2 linked regions of the Homo sapiens genome follow. The protein of the gene in region 1 purifies or fractionates together with the protein of each later gene. This does not show direct contact. Each region holds a gene or a part of one and is shown in the gene's direction. Other genes may lie near its edges. The genes, in order: DEFB1 and NMT2.

The links.
Region 2: the proteins of DEFB1 (region 1) and NMT2 purify together in Homo sapiens (affinity purification with mass spectrometry; 2 studies listed by BioGRID and IntAct, with this or other methods). This does not show direct contact.

What each region holds. Positions count from the first base shown.
Region 1 is NC_000008.11:6,869,865-6,872,610, reverse strand, and holds the end of DEFB1 (beta-defensin 1 preproprotein), read left to right. Parts: intron 1-1,784; coding exon 1,785-1,930; 3' UTR 1,931-2,019; downstream 2,020-2,746. UniProt on the Homo sapiens protein: Has bactericidal activity. May act as a ligand for C-C chemokine receptor CCR6. Positively regulates the sperm motility and bactericidal activity in a CCR6-dependent manner.
Region 2 is NC_000010.11:15,158,543-15,162,365, reverse strand, and holds part of NMT2 (glycylpeptide N-tetradecanoyltransferase 2), read left to right. Parts: intron 1-2,329; exon of another isoform or gene 2,330-2,533; intron 2,534-3,823.

The sequences.
Region 1 (2,746 bases):
TCCACAGCAACACAAAAAAACTCTTCTTTTCTCATTCTCCTCAATGCCTGGTTTCCGGGCCCTTCCCAAACCTCTTCATTCTCCTGTGGATGTGTTTAAGTTGGCCAATAGACTTCCCAACGTTTGAAGCCTGGTATCAATACAGAGTACCTTCTATTGAAATGAAGTTGAATAAAACGTTCTGCAGTGGTAAAAAGATTCTATATCTGCTGTTCAATGAATGCAGCACCCACTAGCCACATAGTGCTCGTGAGCACTTGCAATGCGGCTAGGGTGATTTCAATTAACCTAAAAGAGAACAGCCACAGGGAGCATGTGGCTGCCATATTGGATGGTGCTGCTTTGAGAACAAAATGAGAGAAATGAAGCCTCTATTTACCTTGGTTGGCGGAACACATTGAAGGGACTCTGTATTGATACCAGGCTTCAAACTTTGGGAAGTGTACTGGCCAACTTAAACACATCCACAGGAGAATGAAGAGGTTTGGGAAGGGACCAGAAACCAGGCATTGAGGACAATGAGAAGAGTTTTTCAAAAGTGGAATTACTGCAAAAAGTGGAAAAATAGCCTTTGGATGGAAGTTACTGATGAGACAATTTCCATCGGTGTGAAAGCCATCTTTCCAACAGAGATCTGCAACATGAGAATGTACTGTCTCCTAGGGTAGCGATGGCCTCTTGTATTAGTCCGCTCAGGCTACCAGATTTATCGTTTAAACTGCCCATAAACAGACCAGGCAGTTTAAACAACAGAAATTTATTTCCTCGCAGTCCTGGAGGCAGGAAGTCTGCGATCAAGGTGGAAGCAGGGTTGGCTTCTTCTCAGGTGTCTGTCCTTGGCTGGTAGATGACCGCCGCCTCCCTGGGTCCTCACATGGTCTTTCCTCTGTGTGTGTCTGTCCCAATCTCTTCTTATAAGGATGCAAGTCTTATGGATCAGAGCACACCCCAATGACCGTGTTTAACTTGAATCACCTCTTTAAAGTTTCTCTCTCCAAATACAATCACCTTCTGAGGCACTGTTAGGGCTTCGACACAGGAATTCTTTTCCTAGGGGATTCAGTTCAGTCCAAAACGCCTACCAGTGGAGACTTGCAACATGGCGGCCTGCTGGTCCCTCGCCAGGAATATCACAGGCGACTGTTCCCTGTTGCATGGAATAGAAGGCTATTCCAGAGTACTGTCTCTATTTATCAGATCTGGGATACTGGGAGAAGGGCAAAATAAAGTCCAAGTAGAAAAAAAAACTATGAAAGTTTTAGAGAGTAACCATAATTTCAGCCCGATGTGAAACGATCCTAGATTTCAGCTGAAATAGTGATGTGGGAAGTGAGGGGGCCGGGATTCAAGGCAGAGGGAACAGCGTAACTGAAGGCATGGAAGGAGGGAAGTGTAGGCTGTGTTTGAAGAGTGGCAGCTGCTTCCACATTTCTAAAACACAGGATGTGATTTTGGGGTGTGTTGAGACAAGGCAGAAAACTTGTTTGGAAAAATAACTTGAATTCCCTGCACATTTAAAATCTCTCAGCAGAAGAAAACCCCACTCAGAACCCCACTGCTCATTCCTTGGCTTGTATTTGGCCACAGCTGGCATAGCCCCAGACTGAGTAAGCTGTTCAGACACCTCATTTCATGAGTAGCCCCAAAGATCAATCATGGGCCAATTTCTTGGAAGAGAAGACTCTCCGGTGTTTTGCAGTTATTTGTTCTGCTTTCGCGAGATGTTCTCAAATCGTTGCAGCTACAAGCCATGAGTCTGAAGTGTTTGTGTTCCCTCCTTACAGGTGGTAACTTTCTCACAGGCCTTGGCCACAGATCTGATCATTACAATTGCGTCAGCAGTGGAGGGCAATGTCTCTATTCTGCCTGCCCGATCTTTACCAAAATTCAAGGCACCTGTTACAGAGGGAAGGCCAAGTGCTGCAAGTGAGCTGGGAGTGACCAGAAGAAATGACGCAGAAGTGAAATGAACTTTTTATAAGCATTCTTTTAATAAAGGAAAATTGCTTTTGAAGTATACCTCCTTTGGGCCAAAATGAATCTTGTGTCTCAATTGGAAGAGGTAAAGAAGTAGGGGGTTAGGGTGCATGGGTTGGAACGTGAGACAGGTCGAACCACAAAGCCTGCCTGGAAAAGGGGAGTGATGTCCTAGGCTTCAGTGATGTCACCTCCACTTTGTTTGATCCACAAACCAACAGGTGACTGATTTTGGTTTTTTTTTTTTTGGTTTTTTTTTTTTTTTTTTTTTTTTGAGCTGGTGTTTCACTCTTGTCGCCCAGGCTGAAGTGCAGTGGCACAATCTCGGCTCACTGCAACCTCTGCCTCCCAAGCCCAAGCAGTTCTCCTGCCTCAGCCTCCCGACTAGCTCGGATTACAGGTGCCGGCCACCATACCTGGCTAATTTTTGGGGTTTGTTTTTGTTTTTAGTAAAGACAGGGTTTCACCATGTTGACCAGGCTGGTCTCGAACTCCTGACCACAGGTGATCCACCCGCCTTGGCCTCCCAAAATGCCAAAGTGCTGGGATTACAGGCATGAGCCACGACGCCGGCCCCAACACATGACTGATTCTCAAGTGTCCACATAATTCAGAGGTCTCAGCAGTCTGCTCAGTGAAATAGTCCTTTGGCAGGACCCAGAACTTCCATTTTTTCTCCTTTCTGGTCTTAGGGCACTGTGTTGGTTAACTTTAGCATTTGAGAATCTCCAGGACTACTTGGAGAAATGGCAGCCTCCAAGTCTGGAAC
Region 2 (3,823 bases), on another chromosome or scaffold:
TTGGTACTCAAAAATTTCTGTATTTTATTTCCTGTCTTTGGTAGAATATGTCTAGTTTTCATTCTTTTTTTCTTCTGTGGATTATCTGTACACTTTTTTTTTTTTTTTTTTTTTGAGACAAGGTCTCACTCTGTCATCTGGGCTGGAGTGCAGTGGCACAATCTCAGCTCACTACAGCCTTGACCTCCTGGACTCAAGTGATCCTCCCACCTCAGCCTCTCAAGTAGCTAGGACTACAGGCACATGCCACCACACCTGGCTAATTTTTGTATTTTTGTAGAGACAGGGTCTCACTATGTTGTCTAGGCTGGTCTCGAACTCCTGAACTCAAGCAGTTCACCCACCTCCGTCTCCCAAAGTGTTGGGACTACAGGCGTGAGCCACCGTGCCCGGCGATCTGTACATTTTGAACAAGTATGTTTTCATCTATATTTCTTTATCCATATCAAAAAATTAACCACTATTTAAAATATTCTACCATCTCACAAGAAAAATCATGTAGGATATTTTGACTTCTTTTCATTTCCTAGGTTTAATTGAAATAACCTGGAATTGTAATTCTTTTATTTTTGCCCTTGTGTCACTAGAGACTTTTTTCTTAACTATTACATGTTTCACATTCCTGTTAACAAAAACATTTTAGACTTTCCTGACAGCTTTATTGTTTTTATGGGTTTCCATCGTTCTTTATAAAACACATCCTCCCGGCCAGGCGTGGTGGCTCGCACCTGTAATCCCAGCACTTTGGGAGGCCGGGGTGGGCGGATCACCTGAGGTCAGGAGTTCGAGACCAGCCTGGACAACATGGTGAAACCCCATCTCTACTAAAAATACAAAAAAACATTAGCCAGGTGTGGTGGCGGGCGTATGTAATCTCAGCTACTCGGGAGGCTGAGGCAGGCAGGAGAATCACTTGAACCCAGGAGGTGGAGGTTGCAGTGAGTCGAGATTGCACCATTGCACTCCAGCCTGGGCGACAGAGCAAGACTCTGTCTCAAAAAAATAAAAGTAAAAAATAAAACACATCCTGTCTTTTTCTTCTTTAACAGCATTCTCACATGATTTTTTTTCTTAGAGTGCGTGGATGATGTATTTTGAGTTCTTGCATGTCTGAAAATGCCATTCTTTTCCCCTCCCACATAATACATAGCCTGGGTGTGCATGTGACTCTATGATAACAATCGTTTTCCTTGAAACTCCATAAACGTTTTAATATCTTCCAGTATTTACTGGTACAGATGTTGTTTTCTTTGTGTTTTTTTTTTTTTTTTTTTTTTTTTTTTTGATTTTTGAGGCAGAGTCTCGCTCTGTCACCCAGGCCAGGCTGGTCTCGAACTCCTGACCTTGACCTCAGGTGATCCACCTGACTCGGTTCCCCAAAGTGCTGGGACTACAGGTGTGAGCCACTGTGCCTGGCCAGATGCTGTTTTCTCTGCTTCTCTGTCTTTTATAGGTAATCTTATTCTTTTTGTCTGTTTTAACTTGTTTTCAGTCTAGAAGCTTCTGGCATTTTTTCCCTGTTGTTCTATTACCAAAGGGTTTCCATGTCCTTTCACATGCTGGGATCGCCTGTCCTTTATTTTTTATTTTTTGCAATGGAGTCTTACTCTGTTGCCCAGGCTGGAGTGCAGTGTCGTCATCTTTGCTCACTGCAACGTCCACCTCCCAGGTTCAAGCGATTCTCCTGCCTCAGCCTCCCAAGTAGGCAGGATTATAGACGCACACTACCATGCCTAGCTAATTTTTGTATTTTTAGTAGAGACGGGGTTTCACCACGTTGGCCGGCTGGTCTCGAACTCCTGACCTCAAGGAATCTCCCCACCTCAGCCTCCCAAAGTGCTGGGATTACAGGTGTGAGCCACTGCACCTGGCACCTTTCCTTTACTATCTAAACAAAATGGCCTGAGCTGATACATGTTCATGGGGGTTTCTTGGGGTCTTAAGTTTTCATGGTCCTCAGGCACACCCACACTGCAGCCAACTTGCCCCATCACCGGGCTCCTTGTGCCTGTGTGTCCTTAGGGTGCTCTTTTTCTTCAACATTTGACCTTGGGTGGAACACGGTTATCTTCAGTTCTGTGTCTCTCACCACCCTCCTCCCAGGAATCACTAAAATCCAGCTATTGTGCACAGCATTTGCTGAAGCGTTTGTGGCTAATGGGGAGGGAGGGAGGTCTGATTACAGAGTAGCGCAGAAAACAACTTTGAATTCAGTGTCAGACATCATTGTTCACCAAGAGGAATTTGTTACTGCTCACGCCTTTCTGTGGGTCATGGCTTCCTCTGCTTCTGAGAGTGTCTCCTGATCTTTCTTCTCCTCTTCTCTAAGTTCAAGGTCAGCCCAAATGTCCTTTCTTTCATGAAGCCTTCCGCAGCCACTATGACCAAAGGCGCTGACCCCTGCCGGAAGCCCTGTAGCTCTTAGTGAGTGTATCTTTCCCGTGACATCTTTCCCAGTTGCTCTCACCTCATCTCCCCAGCCCTCTGCTCGGGAAGACCCTCATTCTCCTGCCCCAAGCTGTGGCTCCTAGAGGTGAGTTCCTTGTCCACAATCACAAATGGGAGATGTGGGTCTTTGCGTCTGTTGCTTAATGTGTGTGTAGCATCTACCAACCAGCTAGAGTAAAAGGTTTTATTTTGCTGGGCGCAGTGGCTCACGCCTGTAATCCCAGCACTTTGGGAGGCCGAGGCGGGTGGATCACCTGAGGTCAGTAGTTCGAGAGCAGCCTGGGCTACATGGTGAAACCCCATCTCTACTGAAAATACAAAAATCAGTCTGGCACGATGGCGGGCACCTGTAATCCCAGCTAATCGGGAGGCTGAGGCAGAATTGCTTGAACCCGAGAGATGGAGATCACTTTATAAGCACATACTGCAGTGAGCCGAGATTGTGCCACTGTACTCCAGTGAGCCTGGGCGACAGTGAGACTCTGTCTCAATAAATAAATAAATAAATAAATAAATAAATATTTTAAGGAGGTTTTATTTAAATATACAATAGGTTATCTGAAAATAAAGTATGGCTGGACTTTATTAGAATTAAACATTATAGAAAGTCAAGTACCCAAGGTCCATCTGTCTTTCTAACCTCTCTCCCTTTCTGTCTCAGTCTCTGTCAACTAGACTGCCCCAAGCATCTGTTCCTTAGTTCAGATTCTCCAGAAAGGATCTCACTGGTTTCTGGCCAAGAAAGGGATTATCCAGGCATGATCCAGTCCACTGTGATGGAGAAGGGAAAGGGAGGGGTAGAAGAGAATTGTGTGGTACAACATGGCCACTGAGGGCCACACCTTTGGTGAGACCTGTGGGCAAAGGGAGTTTTCAGGGAAGGACATAGTGAACAATGCTGGCACCTTGCTGGGACTGAATTGTATCTCCCTGCCAATTCATATGTTGAAGCCTAAATCCCCAACGTGATGGTGTCTGGAGGTGGCACCTTTGGGGGGTAAATAGCTTACAAGGGTGGAGTCCCCATGAATCGGATCAGTGTATGCTTATAAAGAGATAGAGTCCAGTGCTTTGTTGCTCTGCCAAGAATAAGGCCCTCACCAAAAACCTGACCCTGCTGGCACCCTGATCTTGGTGGACTTCCAGCCTCCAGAACTGTAAGAAATAAATGTCTTTTCTTTAAGTAATCAGTCTATCGTATTCTGTAATAGCAGGCTGAACTAAGACACACCTCAAAACATGTTTGCAGAACACAGCGTGTCTGCCTGTCTACTCACAGGTAGATTGTGTGCATGGAGACAGCACTTTCAGTCTCCAATCCTTGCAATACCTGGTACCTTGCATGTGTTTGTAACTTACTAAAGATTTGCAGAAT